Homo sapiens: one gene and its partners. The protein of the gene in region 3 purifies or fractionates together with the protein of the main gene of each other region. This does not show direct contact. Each region holds a gene or a part of one and is shown on either strand. Other genes may lie near its edges. The genes, in order: ZNF618, HK1, PER2, BMAL1, PIP5K1A, WASHC4 and CEP78.

The links.
Region 1: the proteins of PER2 (region 3) and ZNF618 purify together in Homo sapiens (affinity purification with mass spectrometry; one large-scale study listed by BioGRID and IntAct). This does not show direct contact.
Region 2: the proteins of PER2 (region 3) and HK1 purify together in Homo sapiens (affinity purification with western blotting, with the first as the bait; one study listed by BioGRID). This does not show direct contact.
Region 4: the proteins of PER2 (region 3) and BMAL1 purify together in Homo sapiens (affinity purification with western blotting, with the first as the bait; one study listed by BioGRID). This does not show direct contact.
Region 5: the proteins of PER2 (region 3) and PIP5K1A purify together in Homo sapiens (affinity purification with mass spectrometry; one large-scale study listed by BioGRID and IntAct). This does not show direct contact.
Region 6: the proteins of PER2 (region 3) and WASHC4 purify together in Homo sapiens (affinity purification with mass spectrometry; one large-scale study listed by BioGRID and IntAct). This does not show direct contact.
Region 7: the proteins of PER2 (region 3) and CEP78 purify together in Homo sapiens (affinity purification with mass spectrometry; one large-scale study listed by BioGRID and IntAct). This does not show direct contact.

Annotation. Positions count from the first base shown.
Region 1 is NC_000009.12:114,047,309-114,050,808, forward strand, and holds part of ZNF618 (zinc finger protein 618), read left to right. Parts: intron 1-584; coding exon 585-686; intron 687-1,342; coding exon 1,343-2,859; 3' UTR 2,860-3,500. UniProt on the Homo sapiens protein: Regulates UHRF2 function as a specific 5-hydroxymethylcytosine (5hmC) reader by regulating its chromatin localization.
Region 2 is NC_000010.11:69,321,847-69,325,346, reverse strand, and holds part of HK1 (hexokinase-1), read right to left. Parts: intron 1-3,500. UniProt on the Homo sapiens protein: Catalyzes the phosphorylation of various hexoses, such as D-glucose, D-glucosamine, D-fructose, D-mannose and 2-deoxy-D-glucose, to hexose 6-phosphate (D-glucose 6-phosphate, D-glucosamine 6-phosphate, D-fructose 6-phosphate, D-mannose 6-phosphate and 2-deoxy-D-glucose 6-phosphate, respectively).
Region 3 is NC_000002.12:238,250,611-238,254,110, forward strand, and holds part of PER2 (period circadian protein homolog 2), read right to left. Parts: intron 3,093-3,500; coding exon 2,302-3,092; intron 1,152-2,301; coding exon 989-1,151; intron 134-988; coding exon 1-133. UniProt on the Homo sapiens protein: Transcriptional repressor which forms a core component of the circadian clock.
Region 4 is NC_000011.10:13,368,290-13,371,789, reverse strand, and holds part of BMAL1 (basic helix-loop-helix ARNT-like protein 1), read right to left. Parts: intron 2,173-3,500; coding exon 2,023-2,172; intron 1-2,022. UniProt on the Homo sapiens protein: Transcriptional activator which forms a core component of the circadian clock.
Region 5 is NC_000001.11:151,229,552-151,233,051, forward strand, and holds part of PIP5K1A (phosphatidylinositol 4-phosphate 5-kinase type-1 alpha), read left to right. Parts: intron 1-2,119; coding exon 2,120-2,250; intron 2,251-2,696; coding exon 2,697-2,814; intron 2,815-2,999; coding exon 3,000-3,152; intron 3,153-3,500. UniProt on the Homo sapiens protein: Catalyzes the phosphorylation of phosphatidylinositol 4-phosphate (PtdIns(4)P/PI4P) to form phosphatidylinositol 4,5-bisphosphate (PtdIns(4,5)P2/PIP2), a lipid second messenger that regulates several cellular processes such as signal transduction, vesicle trafficking, actin cytoskeleton dynamics, cell adhesion, and cell motility.
Region 6 is NC_000012.12:105,142,231-105,145,730, reverse strand, and holds part of WASHC4 (WASH complex subunit 4), read right to left. Parts: intron 3,279-3,500; coding exon 3,173-3,278; intron 2,605-3,172; coding exon 2,488-2,604; intron 1,445-2,487; coding exon 1,276-1,444; intron 1,014-1,275; coding exon 859-1,013; intron 1-858. UniProt on the Homo sapiens protein: Acts as a component of the WASH core complex that functions as a nucleation-promoting factor (NPF) at the surface of endosomes, where it recruits and activates the Arp2/3 complex to induce actin polymerization, playing a key role in the fission of tubules that serve as transport intermediates during endosome sorting.
Region 7 is NC_000009.12:78,249,575-78,253,074, forward strand, and holds part of CEP78 (centrosomal protein of 78 kDa), read left to right. Parts: intron 1-671; coding exon of another isoform or gene 672-739; exon of another isoform or gene 740-931; intron 932-2,330; coding exon of another isoform or gene 2,331-2,333; coding exon 2,334-2,469; intron 2,470-3,500. UniProt on the Homo sapiens protein: Centriole wall protein that localizes to mature centrioles and regulates centriole and cilia biogenesis. Involved in centrosome duplication: required for efficient PLK4 centrosomal localization and PLK4-induced overduplication of centrioles.

The DNA of each region.
Region 1 (3,500 bases), on a different chromosome or scaffold from region 3:
TTTTCTTATATCCGAGCTTCAGTTTCCATGTCTTACAGTGAGGGGTTTGATAATTTGGTACTTTGTGTCACACATGGCTTTGGTTTTGTTTTGTTCATTTCATAAAATTTCTAGTAAATATACTTAAAAAATGCAAACTTTGCGAAAGTGAGAGAGTATGAGGAGTTTTTGGCCACTTGGGGGGTGTAGCTGGTACTCCCTCCCTTCCCTCCATATCAGCTAGAACTCTGTGGTTGTGTGCAGGGAGTAGGTGTGGGGTTCCCAGCCAGGCTTGGGATCCAGTGCTTCCCATTTCCAGAGAGTTTGCTCCATACCACACACTGTGCTCAGCTCTTCCTGGATTAGCTCTTGTTAGTCTTACCAGCAATAGTGTAATGTCCATATGATTACCTTAGTTTTTCTAAATGATGAAAATGAGGCTTTGCAAGCATAGATAGTTGTCTAAGGAGGAGCCAGGATTTTAACCCAGGCCTGAGTCCCAATGGCCACATTCTGCTGTTACCCACCACACTCTAGTTCTCATCTCGTTCCTCAACAGGCCTCTTACCCTTCCAGGTAACACACTGTCCCCTTTGTGCCCACAGCTGACAATGAAAACAACATTGCCTCCAACCAGTCCCGATCGCCACCTGCTGTTGTAGAAGAGAAGTGGAAACCTCAGGCCCAGAGGAACAGTGCCAATAACAGTAGGTCTCCCCAAGCAGGGCTGGACCTGAGGGTCCCCTTATGCTCCAGTTGTTCCTCTCTGCCCCCCATTCCCACCATTTGTGCTTCCTGTGATGTTGTAAGATGATGCATGATAGTTTCCAAAGCACTTTTACACCTAAGACCTTATTTGCAGGAGTTCTTAACTCAGGGGATGGGCAGAAGGAGGCCCAGGGAGAGGAGGTGACTTTTTTTGTGGTCAGAAAGCACCAATTTGTGGCAGAATCAGAACTAGAACCCACCTCTCCACAATTTCTGCTGGTTGCTCTTTCCTGACATGATGATCCCATGTATCTTATTTCCTGAAGATTCCCATATTAGAGGAGATTCCTGTATTGAGGAAGAAATTAGACTAGTTGGCTTCAAAGATCTAGGGGAATGACATAGACCGCAATTATGTTGCATACATACCACTACATTCTATTCCCATGCTCATGGCAGGCCTTACTAATCAATCATAGAACTTTATCCCTGTGAGACCATCATATATTAAAGGCAGCCAGCACCACCCATGTGTGTGCAAGAGGAAATATATTTGCCATTCCCAATACTAGATGTTTAGAGTGTTAGGCTACTGCCACTCCAAGCAGCCTTGAATGCCAGAATTAATCCCATCTGTCTTTGTGTCCTCTGCCAGCCACTACCAGTGGTTTAACACCCAACAGCATGATCCCCGAAAAGGAGCGGCAGAACATCGCAGAGCGGCTGTTGAGGGTCATGTGTGCCGACCTGGGTGCACTGAGCGTGGTCAGCGGGAAGGAGTTCCTGAAGTTGGCCCAGACCTTAGTAGACAGTGGTGCCCGCTATGGGGCCTTCTCGGTCACTGAAATCCTGGGCAACTTCAACACGCTGGCGCTGAAGCACCTGCCACGCATGTACAACCAGGTGAAGGTGAAAGTGACCTGTGCCTTGGGCAGCAATGCCTGCCTAGGCATCGGTGTCACCTGCCACTCCCAGAGTGTTGGCCCTGACTCCTGCTACATCCTCACAGCCTACCAGGCCGAGGGCAACCACATCAAGAGCTATGTGCTTGGTGTGAAGGGTGCGGACATTCGCGACAGCGGTGACCTTGTGCACCACTGGGTGCAGAACGTGCTGTCGGAGTTCGTGATGTCGGAGATCAGGACAGTGTACGTGACGGATTGCCGGGTGAGCACGTCCGCCTTCTCCAAGGCCGGCATGTGCCTTCGCTGCTCAGCCTGTGCCTTGAACTCGGTGGTGCAGAGCGTGCTGAGCAAGCGGACACTGCAGGCCCGCAGCATGCACGAGGTCATCGAGCTGCTCAACGTGTGCGAGGACCTGGCGGGCTCCACGGGCCTGGCCAAGGAGACCTTCGGGTCGCTGGAGGAGACGTCTCCACCACCCTGCTGGAACTCGGTGACGGACTCACTGTTGCTGGTGCATGAGCGCTATGAGCAGATCTGCGAGTTCTACAGCCGGGCCAAGAAGATGAACCTCATCCAGAGCCTCAACAAGCACCTGCTCAGCAACCTGGCGGCCATCCTGACGCCGGTGAAGCAGGCAGTCATCGAGCTGAGCAACGAGAGCCAGCCCACCCTGCAGCTGGTGCTGCCCACCTACGTCAGGCTGGAGAAGCTGTTCACGGCCAAGGCCAACGACGCAGGCACTGTCAGCAAGCTCTGCCACCTCTTCCTGGAGGCGCTCAAGGAGAACTTCAAGGTGCACCCGGCCCACAAGGTGGCCATGATCCTGGACCCGCAGCAGAAGCTGCGGCCTGTGCCACCCTACCAGCACGAGGAGATCATCGGCAAGGTCTGTGAGCTCATCAACGAGGTGAAGGAGTCCTGGGCCGAGGAGGCCGACTTCGAGCCCGCTGCCAAGAAGCCCCGCTCTGCTGCCGTCGAGAACCCCGCAGCTCAGGAAGATGATCGGCTAGGCAAAAATGAAGTGTACGATTACCTGCAGGAGCCCCTCTTCCAGGCTACCCCTGATCTCTTCCAGTACTGGTCGTGCGTTACCCAAAAGCACACAAAACTCGCCAAGCTCGCCTTCTGGCTCCTGGCGGTTCCGGCCGTGGGCGCCAGAAGCGGGTGTGTAAATATGTGTGAACAAGCGCTTCTAATCAAACGGAGGCGGCTGCTCAGTCCAGAAGATATGAATAAACTCATGTTTCTGAAATCCAACATGCTTTAAGACTTGACTTCGGGGGAAAAAAAAAGAAAAAGAGAAGATAACATTAGAAAAAAACCACACAACACTGTCACAAAGAAAAGGAATTTAAGTTCTAAACACTGTGGACCTCATTATAAATGCCCCCTGGAAACTTAAGTGCTTTTTTTATATGTGTGTGTGTGCGTGTATGTACACAGCCACACGTGTGTGCACGTGTCTGAACACGTGCTGTGGTTGTGGGGGTGTGGGGGGGTCTCTGTGCTCATCTCCATGGCCAGAGAAACTTTGCACACACGCACACACACACACACACACACACACACACACACGACCCTGGTGCGTGTACATACGCCTGTGCTTGGACGGGTGTGCATTGAACTGGGCGTGTCAGGAAAGCTGAGCGATTGGGAAAGAGGGAGATGTTTCACCTCCTTTTCTCAGTAAGGGGGCTTTAGAAGACTCCGCTTTCAGGTGTGCAGATTGGCAGAAAGCTGATGTTGTGAAATGTTCAGGCAGCTGAGATCTGAAGTGACTTGACGCTCTCTGTCCTTCACCCCGGTCCTCCTTTTCCCTCTTTGACCCTCTTCCAGCCCTCCTACCCTCCTGATCCCATTGTGCACCCCCCCACACACTCGGCTGCTCTGCTGTGGACTCTCCACACT
Region 2 (3,500 bases), on a different chromosome or scaffold from region 3:
GGGTGTGGTGGCTCACACCTGTAATCCCAGCACTTTGGGAGGTCGAGGCAGGCGGATCACAAGATCAGGAGATCGAGACCATCCTGGCTAATACAGTGAAACCCCGTCTCTCCTAAAAATACAAAAAATTAGACGGGAGTGGTGGCAGGCGCCTGTAGTCCCAGCTACTCAGGAGGCTGAGGCAGGAGAATGGCGAGAACCCAGGAGGCGGAGCTTGCAGTGAGCTGAGATCGTGCCACTGCACTCCAGCCTGGGCAACAGAGCGAAGACTCCATCTCAAAAAAAAAAAAAAAAAAAAAAAATACACATTTTTGTGACAATTAATTTTGACTCCACCTTACAAAGTTTCTAAGTATAATATCCCTGATGTGTACTGTTTACCAGAAGTCAATGTTATTTCCAGAAATCAAGACCAATCAAACTGTAAAATTTTTACCTATTTTTCTTTAAGATCAAATACAATGAACACAACCCAGTGTATATTAAGTGGTTGCAAAAGATCCCGTTGTTAAGGTTTATTAGGCCAGAAGGCAGTGGGCACCTGTCCTGCTACTCCAAACAGACTAACACATCCCCAGAACTGGGGATGGGAGCAGCTTCCTGAAGCACTTAAGGAGCTAACATCTGCAGCCTAGCTGTAAGCAGTTCCTAGCCTAGGGATTTCCCACCCAAGGTATGACCACACCATGCTGTGGGCCCTCATAGCCCATATGCTTTGCACATATAACACAGCAAATACTTCATTTTTTTTTAATTATTATTTTTGTTTAGATGGAGTCTCGTTCTGTCACCCAGACTGGAGTGTCAGCTCACTGCAACCTCCGCCTCCCAGGTTCAAGTGATTCTTCTGCCTCAGCCTCCCGAGAAGCTGGGACTACAGGCATGAGCCACCACATCTGGCACCTTTTTTGTATTTTTAGTAGAGACGGGGTTTCACCATGTTGGTCAGGCTGGTCTCGACCTCCTGACCTCAAATGATCAGCCTGCCTTGGCCTCCCAAAGTGCTGGGATTATAGGCATGAGCCACCACGCCCGGCCAGCAAATATTTTATGCTCCATGAGAACTGGGACCGTTTCTGCCTTGTTTATAGTTGTCACCCCAGCCTAGCACAGTCCTCTGCACATAATAAAAAAATCAAACATTTTTTAAAGAAATGATTGAGCTCCTGTGATCAGATTTGATCTTCAGGGTTTTCAAATCAATAAGCATACTTAGGGAGGCCAAGGCGGGAGGACTGCCTGAGCCCAGGAGTTCAAGACCAGCCTGGGCAATATGGTGAGACCCTGTCTCTATAAAAAAATAAAAACAAATCCATAAGCAGGTGCCAGCAGTCTGACCACAACTGATTCCTGGATGCAGAGGTATACAGCTCCCTGTCTTTATCCATGTCTTCCCTGGACCTTCTCAGGCATGCTCAGAGGTGATTCCAGTGGCTAAATCTGTCTGCCAGGAATCCCTGACTGCAGACACACACAGACAGTCCCAGTCATGCCAAATCAGTCTTGTAAGGGGAAAGCTGCCTATGTCTTCTCCGGAGAACAGTAGGAGCGTGGGAGCATGGCACAGCTTGGCCAGATGTGAAAGCACCTCACAGACACCCTGCCTGCCAGTTTATTCCTTCATGACATTCCCAAACTATCCAACCAGATAAAGTGATGGGGCTTCTCTTGGGAGAAACCCTAGGAGTATCTAAGGTAGGAAAGGCAGGGATTATAAAGTCAAGATTCACCAAGAAGCTCTCACTGAATATTTGTACAACATCAGAATTGAGAGGTTATGAGACACTTCTCATAATTTTCTTTCTTCTTTTTTTTTTTTTTTTTTTGAGACAGAGTCTCGCTCTATCATCCAGCCTGGAGTACGGTAACACAATCATAGCATCACAGCTCACTGTTTTGGGATCAATCTTTTGGGCTCAATGAGCCTCCTGAGTAGCTGTGACTACAGGTGTGTGCATGCCACCAAAGCAGGCTAAAAAAAATTTTTTTTTAAGATGAGGTTTAATTTTGTTGCCCAGGCTGACTTTTCATAATTTTTTCTTTTTTTTCTTTGCCACTGCAAGAACCCACAGATTTTTCATAATTTTCTTTTTTTTTTTTTTGAGACAGAGTTTCGCTCTGTTGCCCAGGCTGGAGTGCAGTGGCATGATCCTGGCTCATGCAACCTCCGCCTCCCCGGTTCAAGCAATTCTCCTGCCTCAGCCTCCCGAGTAGCTGGGACTTCAGGTGCATGCTACCACGTCCAGCTAATTTTTGTATTTTTAGTAGAGACGGGATTTCACCATATTGGTCAGGCTGGTCTTGAACTCCTGACTTCGTGATTCACCTGCCTCAGCCTCCCAAAGTGCTGGGATTACAGGCATGAGCCACTGTGCCCAGCCAGATTTTTCACAATTTTCTAACTATCACCTCTCTCACCCCTGAGCAATAATGAATGGGCATTTTTTTTTTTTTTTGAGACGGAGTTTCGCTCTCGTTGCCTAGGCTGGAGTGCAATGGCGTGATCTCGGCTCACCGCAACCTCTGCCTTCCAGGTTCAAGTGATTCTCCGGCCTCAGCCTCCCAAGTAGCTGGGATTACAGGCATGCGCCACCACACCCAGCTAATTTTGTATTTTTAGTAGAGACGGGGTTTCTCCATGTTGGTCAGGCTGGTCTCGAACTCCCGACCTCAGGTGATCCACCCGCCTCAGCCTCCCAAAGTGCTGAGATTACAGGTGTGAGCCACTACATCGGCCTTTTATTTATTTATTTATTTTTAATGCTTGCTTTTGCAGCTGGAACACATAGGCTCTAAGGAATGTACCTTGGGCAACCCTTTAATTGCTAAGCCTACTCTCCCCTGTCTTCCTGGGTCAAGTACTCAAGGACTCCTGAGTTCGGCCATTGGACAAATCACACTCTCTTCAACAGCACCCATTAACCAATTTATGCAGATGCCGTCTGGATAATGGGGTTCCAAACTGGGAAGTCAGACACCTGAACTGTTTCAACCCAGGATATATTTTTATGGAGTTGAATTATTGATGTGCCTCAAGGCAATGAGGAAAGAAATGACACCCTTTTCATGATCACCTACTAGTGGAAATCACTTAGCGTTATGGGGATCTCGCCCAGAGAAAATCCACTGGCATTTGCTCACCATTCTGACAAGCCTGGAGGAAAGGAAGTCTAATCTTTCTTTAGAAGCCAAGTTCTGACCTTCCTGGACCCATCTTCCCTTTCTAAACAAACAGAGCACTATGCAATCCTTCACCCTGCTCCAAGCTCCTAATGGCTAAACCGAGTGGAAGAAGCTGGCGAGATGAGATGCGTGTTTAAAGTTACTTAGAGGTCAAAGAACCCAGCCTCTAGCTGCAGAACTGGCAGATGTCTGGGATTCTGATGAATGGAATCCTTCACAAGCACACATATGCCTCCCTTTCCTCCTACAGGCACTAGAAGAGTGAAAGGAATATATGTGTTTTGTGCTTAGCTCAGCCTAATGCCAGTACACCCTCT
Region 3 (3,500 bases):
ATGGGATCCTGCAGGACGCACTTAATGAAATGCTCACTTTCTTCCATACCAGTGTTCATTTTTGCTTTGTGATTATTCTCTGAGGAGTCAATGCTTCCAAAATATTTGCTGGTATGACTTGTGTCACTACTGCCTTTAAAAACAAAAAACGTGGTGCGTCAAAACATTGACATATGAAATTAAACCTTGCATAATGTGCTTCCTCAAAGTCAGAATGATTTGAGAGAGCCCAGTGCCTTCTTAGGTATTGGGTATCTATGCCGGTGCATGTTCCCCTTCTCTCCCACTTCTTGAATGCTCTGGGTAATTAGGAAACAGGATCTCTGCTAGTGCCATGCAGGCGATTCTTTCCTGTGAAGCCCTGAGCAGCTCAGGTGGAGCTGCGTGTTAGAAGCCTTGACCTTCTCTCCCAAGCTCTCACCATCTCCACTCATGTGGACCACAGGGCACTGCAGTTTCCCACAAGGGGAGGCAGCTGGCCTGGAGCGCTCCCTAGCCAGCCTCACCTGTGCAGCACGCCTGCGAAGGGAGGCGAGGTGAAAGCTCACTCCAGAGAAGTAGGGGAGCTTCAATTTTGTGGAGAGTGTGTACATTTCTGGTGCCTGAGATTCCAGATCACATGTGAAAGATCCCAGCGGGTAGAGGCTTGCAGGTGCTCCATACCCTCAGTTCACACAAGTGGAACTAAAGCAGGAAGGCAAACCACTATCTGGGGAGTCAGAGGGCTGGTCCCACAAGGAGCCAGGGTGTGAGGCCTGTAGGCACTGAAATCAGAAGCAAACAGGGAGGATGTGGAATTCTGACTAGCTAGGGCCAGCCATGCTGAACAGGGAGAGTGTGTCTGTGTGGGTGTCTGCATGGGCTCTGACAGCTGCTTGGGGAGTGCCGGTGATCCCTGTTCTGAGCACAGAGGCCGGCCTGTGACTCTGGAGCAGTGCATCCTGCAGGAACCTCCCAAGTGCCTAACACCCCGCCAGGGCCAACATACCTGCCCCACTCGGGGAGGCGTCGCAGCCCAGTGAGCCGGAGCCCAGAGACTCCGAAGCAGCAGAGCCCGAGGCTGAGCAGAGGTCCTCATTCAGCAGGAGGTTTAGGAGGCCGCTTGACGTGGAAAGGGCGTCACTGTTCTGTGTGTCTGAGGGTTCATCACGCTTTAGGGACAGGAAGCAGATACTGCTGTTCAGGGGCTCAGTCAGGACACAGCATATGCAGCGGGGTGGGGGTGGGGGGCATGAGTGGGGTGAGGGTGGAGGGGTGCTGTGGAGCGGCTGCAAGGTTCACGGCCAGGGACGGCCTAACGAGCAGACCACGCATCACCACCAGGCCTACGGTGCAAATTCCACTGATGCTCTATGGATGCCGTCTAGTTACATTTAATTTTCGGAGAGTCACATGGAAGACGGCAATACCTGGGCTCCAGGGGGGAAAGCCTCAGGCTGCTCCTTGGCCACAGCCCCCTCCTCACATGCAGCAGACATGGATGGGGAAAACGCCTCTCACAGCACCCGGTGTGGGGGCTGCCTTGGGATTGAGGGCGGGGCCTGGCCTGGGGAGCATCCCTGACCCTCCTCTCCTTGGAAACCCAGACTGCAGGCCCAGGACTCCAGAAGCAGGAGCCCGGAGGTGGCAGGAGGACTGGGAGAAGCTCCACAGATCTACATGCTTGCACTTCCTCACCCGGGAGCCCTAGGTCCTCTGGCCAAGGCAGGGAATCGCCTGAGGCCTACGGACTGCACTGCTGCTGGCGTTCCCACACACTTGAGCTCGTTCAGAAACACAAGCGTTTAACTGCAAATACAACTACCGTTTCATTAACTGGTTAAGAATCTCACACAGTGTCCCTACGCCTGCGGAGGATGGAAACTGAGGTCACGCTGGTTTTAGGGCTGTGTCCCCCTCCTTCTCCGCCTTCACCGGGGCCACCTGAGCCAGGCTCCGGCGCCACACCCTGAGGAGCCCTAGCTCTGGTATTTAACCTGACTGTGCTTTATCTCTGAAGCGTCATTTAAAAAGTCGAAGCCCACAAATACTGTCAAGTCACATGCTGCTTTCTGGAGTCTGTATCACAATCTCTCCTCCTTCATTCAGATTCCACGACAATAAAAGGCTTCGAATAATCTACTCTGATAGGATTAAGTGGGAAGCATGAATTTCTGGCACACACATTCATGGCAAAACCTACAGGGTTTGGTGGAAACCTCAATCGTGTAACCCCCATGTCTGAACTGAGGATGTGCGGCCGGCCTGCCAGGTGTGCTGTTTGCTGCCTGCTTTGGGGAAAGAGCATCAGAAAATCCTTACGGTCAGAGGCGCCTTCGGCTGCTGGTCCCGAGAAGTGCCAGGTTTGCAGTCCGCCCCTACAGCTGCTGTCTCTGTGGCCCCTGTGGTCCCCATGGCTCCAGTGCCACCCTCAGGGGCTTCCTCCAGCTGCAGCAGGTTGAGCTGCAGGGGCGAGCTGCTGCGGGACTGAAAGAGCGGTGGGGAGGCCCTACCCATGGCCGATGGTGGGGTGGCCCGGGTGGCTGGACAAGCACATGGCTGTCTGGGGATCGAGGTCCGGCTGGGGAACTCAGGCTGTGAGGCAGAGGCCATCTCGGATGTGAGTGTGGGGTGGCTCGGAAACTGAGGCTGGCTGGGGAAGAAGGCCTGGGGCAGGTTTGGGGTCCCCGAGGGGAAGGAATAACTGGGTAGCATGAATGCCATGACAGGCGCCAAAGGGGCAGGGAAAGGTGGGGGCTGGACTGCAAACTGGTGCTGGAGGTCCACGGGCACAGCAGGCACTGTGAAGCTGGCGTGGGGAGGTGCCGGGGGTGCTGCCACAGTCCCTGGCGCTGGAAACACGGGCAGTGAATAAGCTGCTGGCACTGGGGCGGGAAAGGGCACGGCTGGGCAGCTGGACTGGGACGTGTCTGAGGGTGACCAGGCTGTGGCGTTCAAGCCCACCAGCGGGGGCCGGGCGGACACGGGCCCCCCAGATCCGGTGCTCTCAGATGAGTCTCGAGGTTTGACCCGCTTGGACTTCAATTTTCTGTTCTTTCCTGTTTTTTTCCAAGGTGAATCTATTCCGGAAGTATTTCTTAGTCCAGGGGCAGCTAATGCAGAAAAACAAATACTCGGAGTTAAAATTTTAACTCCAAATTTGAAGACACCTCTTCGTTCAACAGTCCTGGGTTTCCAAATGCTGGCCCAGGGCCTGCCTGGTCCACCGAGCGGTTTTCCCTGATCCTCAGTGAAGTGAGAAAAATCAGGGCAAAACATCAGGTTTTTCCATAAAACTAAATTGAATCAACTTAAATTACAAGCTCTTAATTGCAGGACACATTCCTTATTTTCTTCTGGTATTAAATGTCCTTTCTTTTATGAAATGCTAATATGATAAGTGGTAATACAAAGTTCTATTTGTTAAATAAATACACTAAAAAGCTGTCATGTCTCTGCTGTTCCCCAGTATTTGGGGGAAAAATTGGTTAGTGAAATCTGAACGGGAGAGCCACTGACCT
Region 4 (3,500 bases), on a different chromosome or scaffold from region 3:
CACAGCCTATATAGGAACTGGCCAAGAGCTCTGTGTGGTTGAAGTGAAATTGGAGGTACTGGGAGTGAGGGGCAAATTGGAAAGGCAGGTTGGAGGAAGATTAAAAGGGCCTTGGATTACTTTCTAACCAATGTTGGTCTGTCTTTTTAAGGCAGGAAATGGAGAGCATCTACAGGTATTTAAGTGCAGAAACAGCAAAATCAAATTGTGGTTTGGATGCTGTAGGAGCAGAGTGACGTATGAACTGGAAGACAGTAGAAAACAGAAGTAGGAAGGCTGATTCAGGGGCCAGTGGCTATAATACAGCAAGAGATTAGGAGGACTGAACTATGGCAGTGCAGTGAAGATGAGAGGGAGCAGAGAAAGAAAGCAGGAGAAATTTCTGAGATCAAACTGTTGGGATTTGCTGTGAATATCAGGCTTAAGGGAAAGAAACAAATGAAGATGACTCTAACTTTTCTGGATTGGGTGGTTGCTGGTGTCATTCACTGACTCAGAGAAGAAAGAAAACAGACTAGAAGAGAGAGAGAGAAAAAAGATAGTTCGATTTGGGACACATTAAATGTGGAGCACCTATAGACTTCACCAACAAGCAAACCACTATGGAGTGTCTGCCAAGCGTGGAGTCTGTGCTGGTTACTGGAATAGAGTGAAAAACAAATCAGACATGCCCTTGTGGAGTTTACAGCCTAGTGGGGGAGACAGACTTTAAACAAATAATCGCACAAATAACTATATAACAGCAAGTATAAGAAAGCACTAGAAAGCAAACCAGTAGGGTGCTATAAGACATAAGGCAGTCTGAGGTTGGAGAGAGCCATGTGAAGGGAGTTCATGGGGAGAGGGAAGAAATTCCAACCAGGAAGCGACAGCATGTGCAGAAGCATTGCCCAGAAGGGGCTTGAGGCATCAAAGGAAGTCAACATGGCTCACATGTGCTTAGTGGCAGGGTCGGGGGCTGCATGGTCACGTTAAATATTTTGAGCTTTTCTTCAAGAACAATAGGGAACACTGAAGGGTTTTTAAAAGGGGACTGATAAAAAGATCATCCTGGCTGCTGTGTTGGGGGTGGGGAGCATGTGGGTCTACACTTTATGAGACCTGGTGAGAGTTGGGGGCAGCCTGGAGCTGAGTGAAAGTAGGCAGCATGGAAAGGGACAAACATTTCAGAGAACTTTTGCAGATGGGACTCATTGTGGCAGGACTTCATAACTAACGGGATTGAAGAGTGGGGTGGTGAAGCAGAAGTGAGGGCACCTCCCCGGCTTCTAGCATGAGCAGCCAGCTGAATGGCAGTGCCATTTATGCTGGAGGAGAGGCTCAGGTGATTACTTCGGCACGTATCCTGTTGGAGACTCCCCTGAGATATCCAAAGCAGGTTGATTTAGTAAGCAGTATATTTATGAATCTGGAGTTCAAAAGACAAGTCTAGGCTGGAAATATGAATGTGGAAGTTGTTGGCATTTAAAGCTGAGGGAGTAGATGACATGACCAACAGAGAGAGACTGCAGACAGAGATGCAGCCCAGGACAGAGAGGGGCAGCCAGCAAAGGGGCCAGCAAGAGAGCCTGTAGCAGCAGGGGGTCGGGGAGGAGGAAGAAGAATGTGGTTTCATGGAATCCAGGAGAAGAGAACACTTCAAGAAGGAAGACAAAGGAAAAATGTTCATCGCATTTAACAACATCAAGGTCACTGGTGAGCTCAGAGTAATTTTGGTGGACTGGTGGCTGTTCATAAGGCAGTTAGGATTGTGGCTGAGAGTATTCTTCCTCAATCATGTTAAAAGAAACACAATTTAAACAGAGGAGGCCTCTCCACAAATCTCTGCCATCAGGCTTTTCAGCTCTCTCCTCTGCTCCCAACTGCCCTACACATAGGGAGGACTGCAGGGTCCTGTCTGCAGTCCTGGGACCTGCCACTCTGGCCAGCCAGAAACCATGGAACCAACGCCCAGCTGAGAGCTCCGCTGCAGAAAGCATGCTTCACCTGTCACAGGGTTTTAATGGACTGTTAAATTGTTACCTTTTTTCTTTGAGCAGGTAGAGGGGAAGTCCTTGTCTTCAACCTTTACTGAAGGCCTGTTACACTTCATCCTACAGAAGAAAGAACGTCGTGCTCCAGAACATAATCGAGATGGCCCAGGGGTTATATCTGTTTTAACTGGAAGTCCAGCTGCAAATCAATACACAAAATGTGATAAACTGAGAGCAGTGTTGTCTGTCAGGAGGGGGAGTGTGACCTTGAGCAAAGCCTTTTCTTGCCTGCCTCACTGTTTTATAATGATGACATGAGATAAATATCTCCCAAGTTTAGGCTTTAACAGATGCAGCATGGACAGGTGTGTTGTCAGTCTGGAAATGTTTATAAATCACAGAGTGTGCTACTAAATAAATGGATTAGGTACTCTGGGGATGAAAAGAAATATAGTATGGGGTTCTTGCCCAATAGACGCTTATGGCTAACAAAGGGCAAATGGAGGTGCACCAAGAAAAGATTAATAATAGGACAGGGTGATGTATGATTAGTGCCAAATAAATGGCAAAGACAACCTGTGCTTCCCAGAGGAGAAGGAACTTGGGCTGGCACTGAAGGATGGGTAGGATATGGATATTGGGAAGGCAAGGTGGGAGCCGGACTGCCTTAAGTTCTCAACCTGGCTTGTAGGCCAGAATACCCTGGATGCATGATCAACCTACAGATTCCTGGACCCCATTCTAGATCTGTGCTGTCCAATGCATTAGCCACTAGCTGCATGCAGGTACTGAGCACTTGAAATGTGGCTTTTCTGAATTGAAATGTGCTGTAAGTGTTAAATACACACAGGATTTCAAAGACAGTATAGAAAAATAAAAGAATGTGAACGAACTTATTAGTTGTTTATAATTATTACATGCTGAAATATTTTGGAGTTAATTTTACATTTATTTTTATTTTTTAAAGTCTGGCTACCAGAAAATATGAAATTATATATGTGGCTCATGTTTGTGGTTTGCATTATGTTTTTATTGGACTGTGCTGTCTGGAAAAACCAAATTAGAATCTCTGGGGGTGGAGCATGACTATGTTGAAAAGCTCCCAGGTGATTCTGAGGAGCACACCTCCTTACCAAACACTGGCTAGGTGTCAGTACAGAAGCCGAGGGAAAACACACCCATGGCCATCACACGAGCAAGTGTGCCGAGGAATGGCCACTGCCCAGGGCTCCTTCTGGGCTTCCTCCCATCCCATCTACCTCCCACATTGCCAGCTCTGCGATCTCCCCTAGAATGCCAATCCGAGCCTGCCCCACCCAACTCAGAGCTCTTCACTGTGTCCCCACAGAACAAATGGTCTTCATGGTTCAGCCCTTCCCCTCCGTGCACGTTTTGTCCAATAGCACCAAGCAAGCCATGTGGCTCCACACCCCTGCACCTGTGCACAGATTGTTTCCTCTTTGTTCCTCCCTTCATTACCTGGCAAACATTAATTCATCTTTTCAAACCCACCTCGGTTGTCATCTA
Region 5 (3,500 bases), on a different chromosome or scaffold from region 3:
GGTTTCTCCATGTTGGTCAGGCTGGTCTTGAACTCCTGACCTCAGGTAATCTGCCTGTCTCGGCCTCCCAAAGTGCTGGGATTACAGGCATGAGCCACAGCACCCGGCCATTTAGCTCTTTTTATATGTTGAACATTAAGATAAAAAGATGAGTTTCTATTATAACTGGGGAGGCAGGTACTTAAAAAAAAAAAGAAACTAATAATTTATTTTCCTTTGACCTATTTGTACATGAAAAAAACTAGTTGTAGGCTGGGCATGGTGGCTCATGCCTGTAATCCCAGCACTTTGGGAGGCCGAGGCAGGTGGATAACGAGGTCAGGAGATCGAGATCATCCTGGCTAACACGGTGAAACCCCATCTCTACTAAAAAAAAAATACAAAAAATTAGTCGGGTGTGGTGGCTTGCGCCTGTAGTCCCAGCTACTCAGGAGGCTGAGGCAGGAGAATGGTGTCAACCAGGGAGGCGGAGCTTGCAGTGAGCCAAGATCACGCCACTGCACTCCAGCCTGGGCGACAGAGCGAGACTCCGTCTCAAGAAAAAAAAAACAAAAAACTAGTTGTAATTTATTGCCCATTGAGGACCAAGTAGAAATATAAGTAATGCCTGGCCGAGGTTGGGGATGAGGCAAATGGAGCAAAGCTATCTAATCAAAGTTTCTGCAGTGATTGAAATGTGCTGTATCTGTGCTATCCAATATGGTAGCTAGTAGCCACACTTGAACTGTAAGTAGTAAGACTGAGAAAATGAAGTTTTAAATTTGAGTTAACTTAAATTTAAATAGCCATGTGTACCTAGTGGCTACTGTTATCAGACAGCAAAGATCTAGATGATGCGATACTTTCCCACGGGCTTGGAATCCTGGATTGTAAGAGTGGGGCTCTTGTATTTGTGTTTTGACCAAGTTTGATAATTCTAAGTCTGAATACTGCTCTCAGAAATAATTTGAGTCTTTCATGCTTTCTTCTTCAGTTAGGAGCTCTTTTACCACACTGTTGCCCTTTTTTTTGAGACAGTCTGGCTGTGTTACCCAGGCTGGAATGCAGTGGTGTGATCTTGGCTCACTGCAGCCTCCGCCTCCCAGCTTCAAGCAATTCTCCTGTCTCAGCCTTCTGAGTAGCTGGGACTACAGGTGCACACCACCTCATCCAGCTAATTTTTGTGTTTTTAGTAGAGACGGTTTCACCACATTGGCCAGGCTGGTCTCGAACTCTTGGCCTAAAGTGGTCTGCCCACCTCAGTCTCCCAAAGTGCTTGGATTAGAGGCGTGAGCCTCCGCCCGCGCCCACCCCACCCTGTTGGCCTTGAGACACACTAGTCAGGCCCTTCCTTAGAGGACTGAAGTTTCTGCCGCCAGGCAGTCAGATCAGAATATTGGTTAATTTTAGGGCTGGGCATGGTGGCTCATGCCCGTAATCCCAGAGCTTTGGGAGTTCTGAGGTTAGGAGCTTGAGACCAGCCTGACCAACATAGTGAAACCCCATCTGTACTAAAAATATAAAGAATAAGCAAGGTGTCGTGGTGCATGCCTGTAATCTCAGCTACTCGGGAGGCTGAGGCATGAGAATCGCTTGAACCGGGGAGGCAAAGTTTGCAGTGAGCCGAGATCATGCTGCTGTACTCCATTCCAGCCTGGGTGACAGAGTGAGACTTAGTCTCAAAAAAAAAAAAAAAAAAAAGGAATATTGGTTAATTTTAGTTACATTCGATATCAGATGAAGGAAATGTTTAGAGGGCTCCAGATACACTCTGGGGGCAGAAACCTTAGGAGTGAGAACTAAGAACGTTGTGTCAATACAATGTATCTTCCAAATACAAATATGGAACTCTTGTTTAGGCAGGCCAACAGGAGGGAGCACCTTGCCTAGCTGAGGCTGGCTCAGAGAGTCCCAGCTTTGCTACTCTGTATCCTCACTGTCCTTCCAATCTTTACTAAGCTTAATTGCAGAGTACAGCATAGGGATGGGGAAACTGGATTGTCCCAGTTTTATCTGAACTATTGCTCAGACTAAAGGATGTTTGTTTTAAAGTGTTCCTTCTAGCTTCCCCTTTCTGAATTTTTATTGTTATGATCCTACTTATACTAGGAATTTTCTTCTCATTTCTCTTGTTTCTCAGACAACCTCATCAGCCTTGAAAGGTGCCATCCAGTTAGGCATTACCCACACTGTGGGGAGCCTGAGTACCAAACCAGAGCGTGATGTCCTCATGCAAGATTTCTACGTGGTTGAGAGTATCTTCTTTCCCAGGTACAGAGTTTAATGTTCAGGAGCATGTCCTGGAAATGTGGCCTTTTCAAATCAGCCCAGGGCAGTTTTAGGGGTTCAGGTCGGACAATTTAGACATGTGTCCATTTCTTAACCTGGTTACAATCAGGGCGATGTGGGACTAGAGAGTTCGGAGAGCAGATACTGTCCTCTAGATGCTTCCATTAGCCTCTGTCCTATGGATTGACCCGTAAAAAACAACCTAATGCATTGGATAGGAGGCAGTGTGATTTCTTCTTCTTCTTATGTCTTGCTGTCCATGCTGTGCCATTGTCTCACTAACTCATCTAAGAAGGGCTGTGATTATCTTAGGAGGAATGTATTCCCCCACTCCCCCCACCATGAGGTGACTCTGAGTGTCTTCGCAAGGTAGATTCTCTGGATGATAGGGACTGGCAAGTTATGGCTACCTCTGTTTAACCCCACAGTGAAGGGAGCAACCTGACCCCTGCTCATCACTACAATGACTTTCGTTTCAAGACCTATGCACCTGTTGCCTTCCGCTACTTCCGGGAGCTATTTGGTATCCGGCCCGATGATTACTTGGTAAGCATCTGGATATCAGGACACTGTGACTCCAGTATCAGAGGGATATTCCCAAAGGAAGGCCCCTTTTCTCCACAGTCTCGCTCTGGTTTTTATTTAGAAAAGAATTGCATCTGTAGTTGATTTTTGTGTTGGGCAAGGCCCTGATGTGTCTAAATCTCTTAGTTCTTCTCTGTTTGCCCCAGTATTCCCTCTGCAGTGAGCCGCTGATTGAACTCTGTAGCTCTGGAGCTAGTGGTTCCCTATTCTATGTGTCCAGCGACGATGAGTTCATTATTAAGACAGTCCAACATAAAGAGGCGGAATTTCTGCAGAAGCTGCTTCCAGGATACTACATGGTAAGGGAGAGAGAAGCACTGTCCACCTGTGCTGCTCACTTCTGGGCAAGGCTGGGGAGGCTGTCTTCAGCAGGGTAAAACAGTGTCAGCACTTCTATCTTAAGAGTGTAGTTCAGGCCAGGCACGGTGGCTCATGCCTGTAATCCCAGGACTTTGGGAGGCCGAGGCAAGAGGATCACAAGATCAGGAGATCAAGACCATCCTGGCCAACATGGTGAAACCTCGTCTTTACTAAAAATACAAAAAATTAGCCAGGCGTGGTAGCGGGCGCCTGTAGTCCCAGCTACTCAGGAGGCTGAGACAGGAGAATGGCGTGAATCTGGGAGGCGAAGTTTGCAGTGAGCCGAG
Region 6 (3,500 bases), on a different chromosome or scaffold from region 3:
TAAGTTTTTATTATAACTTTTATCATATTCTAATCTAAAAATTTGTTTACACATTTTTTCTCCCAGAGGATATTACATGAGCTGGGACTATTTATATTTATCTTTGTATTCCTAAACATAGTTCAGTGCCTAGCATGTTCTCAATAAATATCAGATATATAAATGAATAAATGAAAGGATATACAAAATAAATGAAAGGATATACAAACTGATCCTAGAAATAATCCCTACATGCAGCAAGATAAAGGGAAAACTAGAATCCTCAAATTTTAGAACTGAATAAATGTTTTTTGGTAAATATTATCTGGATCATCTTAAAGAGAACTCCACGCAAATTATCTGATAACATAAATTATTACATTCATGAGACAATGCCATACTGTACATTAACTAATTGAATTAGCAAAGCTAAATGTTTTCCTATACTCCTCATTTTAAGAACAAAAAACACATTTGTAATCATGTAAATTTAACCATTTTTCCTAAGATACTAAATTTTATATACTATAACCAGGCTTAAAATCCTTAAATGTGACTTTGAACTTCTTAAAATTCTACAGAAGTCACTTCACTATTCTAGTGTTTCTGAAAAGCTGTATATAAATATAAATATATATGTATATCTCGAATGCTCAACAGAAGGCTGAATATAAGCAGGACCCCGGTGGTAAATTCCTTTATAAAGCAATTTAGCAGCACCTAATTTTTTACTGTTGTCAAGTATAAGATTTTATATGGCAAATAATTTCTTAAAAAATAAGCACATACTAACTAAAGCAAAAAGAAAAAAGACTTCCTTAAAAAGTACTGTTACAGCCAACAGTCACAGTATGCTAAAAAAAACATTTTATACTATACCTGTTCCAAAGTCTGACTGGGAAGATGTGCCTCTGTCATAACCAGTCCATAACGCTGAGTAGCTAAGTTTCTCATCTCACTATAAGTGGCCCAGTCATGAAGGGCTACAGTTGTTAGATTGTAGAAAGTCTTGTCTAGGTAGTGAGTTACGTAAGCTACCAAAAAAAAAAAATTCAACTTGTGAAACAGTAGAAAAGGAAAAGAAATGAAACCTAAAAGGAAAAAACAACAACTTGTCCTTGAACATCAGATTTGTTCCTTTAAAATAAGGTATTAATAAAAATGAGAAAAGAAACAAAATGTAATTAAAGAATAACAACACAAAATTTAAATATACCCTCAAAGTTTTGTTTAACAGTAGGGTAAAAAAAAAAAAAAAAGAGAATATGACTCTAAGAAGGAAAGCAAAACACTCACCCCGAATGTCAATGAAACGATTGAAAAACCGAATTGGATTCAGAGAGAAAAAAAGAGCCAGGTCTTTCATGCCAACTTTGAAAGGGTTTCGGTCATCCAGCTTTAAATGAGTATGCACAGAAAGTCGCAGATCTTTCTCTATTTCTTTGCATAATTTGTCCAGCAAATGCTATTCACAAAAGATTTGATACTTTAATTTTTCAAAATGATATTGCAATTGTATTGTTTCCCTACATGTCTATGCTCCATTTTAAACCAATAGTTTTTTGGTCAGAAGCAGTTACATAAATTCTAAGTCTTTATTTTCACCAATACCTTAAGGTTAATACTCTTGAAAAGAAAATCTAAAACTAATGATTGATGGTACCATCATAAGGAACATGAATATGCAACTTAAAGCATAAAATTTATGGAAACCAGCAACAAAGGAGGAAAGGGCATGAGAACAGGCAAGAGAGAAAAGAAAAAAGCTTCCTTGTAATAACTGTTAAAAAAAAAATCACAAAATTCATTGTGCTAAAGGTAATAAAATTAATCATCTTTTCTGGTCTACCAAGGAGTTCTAAATTACTATCCAGGCATGTATTTTATTTCCTAAATAAGAATACGTAATACAAGAAATTATAAAAAGTTTTTCACAATTTCATCAAACCCAGGTAGGATTATATTGTGAAATTTCCTCATTTTTAATTCCTCCCTCCAAATAAAAATATCACTAAATGGAAATTTAATTTTAAAGATATCAGTGTTTATAATACATATTTCCTTAACAAAAGGAGGGGCATACATATTGGATTCAAATTACTTTTGTTACACACTAAATCTTTTAAATATATAATTTCCTTCTCTCAGGAGCTCTGCAAATAAAATTCAGTAAAATATTAATGGTTAAGTTGCTTTAACTGGACCATTAGCAGCTTTCAACATTCAAAACCATTTCACATTTGCATTCTTCTAATAAACAACTTTAAATTAAAATATCTATTTACAAAAGTAAATTTAAAATCTCCTAATTCCTAGTGTGATTTCTAAATAAATGAATTACAGACCAATTAGCACAACAGTGATATTGTAACTAAAAATAGTTCTTTGTTCTACCCAGCAATTTATAAATAATTTTAACTCAGTGAGTCTGCTTCAATCGAACATTTTTTTTCCAAACACTACATTCCAAACATGTTTTAAGCTTTTCAATCTCAAATATGATGTTACCTCATTTAAAATTTCCATAATTTCCTTGTCATAGCAATCCAGAAGTATCTCATAGGACTCTAAATGCCTTGCATGCATCATAGCAGGTACACAGTCGCGCAAAGCACTGAACATGTACTAAGAAGAAAATTAAAATGTACATGAATTTAGAAAAACCAGGTCTCTAATCTAAACAATACTGCAAAAGTTAATTATCTTGAAAGACAAAACCTCGATCTGAAGGAAAAATGATTTTCCACAACTGTCTTAACTTTCCTAAAGAAAAAGAACCTAAAGCATATACTTTAACTAAATATACCCAAAAAAAATCACATTCGCTAGTCCTTTCCTATCTTGTGCATTTAAACACACTTATTTCCATAAAGAAAAATATGAATATTTCTTAAAAATATTTTTTCTTTTGCATTGTAATTTGCTGATGAGTAAATGTCAGATTACTATGACATAAACTAAAATTAAGTGAAATGAAAATGATTAGGAACATGAAGGAAGAAATTAAATAAATTAACTTCGTTAACAGTAACATAAAATTTAACTACAGACTATAAACACTTTATGAATATGCAGTTTACAAAACAGTCAATTTTAAAAGTTTATTAAATCAAATGATCTATTTTAAACTAAAACGGTTTACACAGTGACTTTTAAAATGATAGAATTATTCTTTATATTGTTCTTTACTTACATGTAATCTGGCTGCATCAACAGCATTTTCATATACATCATCTAAATAAATTGGGAAGACAGCTCGATGCCAGTATAAAAAACAACAGTCACATTGTGTTTGGACTCTACAATGTAAAGTAGTAATCAGTCACACCAAAACTGAAGAATCCCAAAACAATATGAAAGGAATGACATCTACTACAGAAGGAAGAGTTCCATCTTACACAGTTCGCATTCCCTACATCACTTAACCCAACATAGTATAGAAAAGTCACAAAAGAAATACTATCAAAATGAAACAAAGGTAACAAACACTCCAATGCCTGACATTGTCAGAATTCTGCACA
Region 7 (3,500 bases), on a different chromosome or scaffold from region 3:
ATCAGCTAATGGCATAAATTTTACATTCTCCTGAATACATAAATTTGGTATAATCTAGTTCTACTGATATTTTCTTTTTTTTTTTAAAGAGTCTTTAACTTTTGTAGAACACATTATCTTTAGTCATAAGTAGCCTTTTTTTACTGATAAGAATGAGTGACAGTGGAATAAGTTAAGCCAAATCTAATGTGAAAGTGACCTTTTCTTGTAAGTAACTTTGAATTTTGAAACAGTAAAACCATGAAGACTACTACAGAGAAAAAAATTAATGTTTTTATGTTTATAATCTGCCAGTTTCCCAGAAAAAGGTTTGTGGTGACTTTAGTTCATACCCTGTACATTAAGATCACCAAACAATTAACACCAGATAATCTTTTATTTGGATGCTACTTTAAATTTTTGAAGGATATCACTTGACTTAATATCACTGAACTGTACACTTAAAAATGGCTAAGATATAAAACAATTTAACATAAAATATAAAACATTAGAAATTCTATAATTTTAGTAGCTAGTGGTATATAATTGGACATCATTGAATGAGAATAAAAAACAAAAATCTTTTTTCTTAGCATGATTAAAGAAATTGGAAATGTGACTGAAGTTTACAAGCTCACTGAGCTATTTTAAGAGTAACTTTATTTCTTGGGCTTTTTTTGTATTTGCCTCAGTAATTTGGAGACACAGAGGTAAGCCAAATCAGTGTCTGGCTTTATATTTAATAGTTAGGTGTCAGTGAGTATAGGGGTTATATAATTTATGTAAATTATGTCACATTCATATTGCAATTACGTGTGCAGACAGAAGATAGGAAACTTTATAATTTTTTTCATCTAACAAGATAAGTAAATTAGTTTGGTTTTAATTAAAATTTATATTTGCGGCCGGGCACGGTGGCTCACGCCTGTAATCCCAGCACTTTGGGAGGCCGAGGCGGGTGGATTGCCTGAGCTCAGGAGTTGGAGACCAGCCTGGGCAACACAGTAAAACCCTGTCTCTACTAAAATACAAAAAATTAGCCGGGCGTGGCGGCGTGCACCTGTAATCCAAGCTCCTCGAAAGGCTAAGGCAGAAGAATTGCTTGGACCTGGGAGGCGGAGGTTGCAGTGAGCTAAGATTGTGCCACTGCACTCCAGCCTGGGCGACAGAGCGAGACTCTTGTCTCCAAAGAAAAAAAAAATTTATATTTGCATTACTTTCTACACATACTACAAACAATACACAGTAACTTTTTTTTAGGATAATTAAAAACAGCACACAATGAACTGAGCTCCTATATATTTATAAGACGTGTATAAATTTGTCCAGAGAAATTGCACAGCACAATGTGGTAATTATCAATAAGTTACACCACGGGAAATATTTGTCCTGTATTACCAAATACATGTTCTTGTAGATGCTGTCCTAAAGCTGCTAAAGTAGATCTTACGTAGTAAAATAGATTGGAAGGATAAATATAACCGTTTTAATAAAGTTATATTATTTGTTCTCAGTGATATCAGAAACAATTATATATTTAAGTGTGAATTTTATTAATATTAATAGGTAGGTCTAGCTTTTACTACCAAATATTTCTTTAAAAAAACTTGACTCTTTAAACTGAAATGTAGGATAAGACTTTATACTTCGTTCTATTATCCAGTAGGTTTCATTTGTTTTCTTTGTGTTCTGTAAAAGCAAATGAACACTGAAGGTGGACAGACTTATAGGCGGCAACATTGGCTCACCTACTACCCAGCTACCTTCAGTCTTACAACTTGGATAGTTTTTACATGATAAAATTAATCCAGCTACCTTTAGTCTTACAACTTGAATACCTTTTACATGATAAAATTAATCTCAAATTGAAATTTTTTTCCAATTCAGAAGGTTCTGTTTGGTAGGAGTCATGGGTGTATCTATGTTCTGTCCTTGAGATTCAGGAATGCCAAAAATATTCTGAGATTTAATAACTTAAAATTTCTGCATAATGCATAATGAAATGTATCACGTATAATCTTTCATTCTTTGGGTTACATGTTTTATTTACCTTTGCGTGCTCTGCATGTCTCATATATTCAACTTATATTTTAGTTAAAGTGATAACTTGTTACTCTAGACAACTTATATTTTTATATATTTATTACTTATATTTAAGTATATTAAAAATATATTTATTCTTATATTTATTACTGGCCTGTGTAAAAAGGTATTTACAAATTGATCCTGATTTAATGGACTTGGTGTCATTGTCAGGTGCCCATTTGTATTCTTTTAAGAGTATGCACATGTGCCTATTCATCTGTAGACCTTTAGTGCATCTTGATTCTTTCTTTTTAACACTTCTCAAGTAGGATTGGCTACAAAGAAACCTGTAAGTAGTGGCAGAAAACACTCCCTTGGTAAAGAATATTATGCGCCCGCACCTCTTCCACCTGGTGTGTCTGGTTTCTTGCCGTGGCGTACTGCAGAACGTGCAAAAAGACACAGGTAGGGTATTTTTATTTCCTATCTTTTAGGATAAAAATGGGATTCAAAATTCTTTATTTTGGAGCTTCTATTATGTGAGAGTTCTCTGCTTATGTCTGTAGGGTAAAAATGACTCATGTGGCTTCTGCCTCATGAATCCTTTAAGGAAGAAAAACAAAAAATAATCCTAAGTAGGGTTTCAAGTTATTAAGTGTCACAGCAAGCTGTATCCCTGTGGGAGTCCAGAGGAAACTGAAATTATCTCCAATTGTGCAGGTGAGAAAAGGTTTCATTTAAAGTATGTGCAGTTAAACCAAGTCCTATAGGGCAGAAATAGGAATTTGGATATTTAAGACTGGGGAAAGGGCATTGTAAAGCATAGGAAATTGTTCAATGCAAAATGATAGGAAGTGTTGATTAGACTTAATCTAACTCAGCCAACTGGCCTAACTCATTTTAGTGAATCAAACCAGATATAACTAGTTTTAGCCAGTTACCTAGGTGATAGCTATTCATAGTAATTTTTGTCAGAAAAGTCTTTTAAAAATGTTGTACTATAATTTTATGCTTAATAAATGAATTAGATTACTATAAATTATTTTCGAATGACTGACTTTTAGTATTCAAGAAATTGGAGATTAACAATTGCTTAAGAAAACAAAGAGGATTGAATTTAAATAGGACTGGAAATAGGTGCTATGTAAAATATCTGTTCAATTGCTCAGATTAAATTGAATATGTATAATCTTTGTTAGGCAACTGATGACTATACTTATTTCACAACTGGTAATGTGAATTATTATTGCATAAACTATAGTGCTGAGGCCCCAGTCTTTACACTTCCATTTAATAACTTCACAGTTTCATATCTTCTTGAGATACTTACTAATTTCAAGTCCCATCTTGGTCACAAGGAGTTGTGAATTAGAGAACAATTAATATCACCAGTTAAAGAAGTTAGATTAGAAATCTGAACCATCCTAAACATAAGAAGTACCTGCATCTTCAGAGTCTTATCCCAAAGCCGTTCTGCTAAATTGTTCAATTTTCTC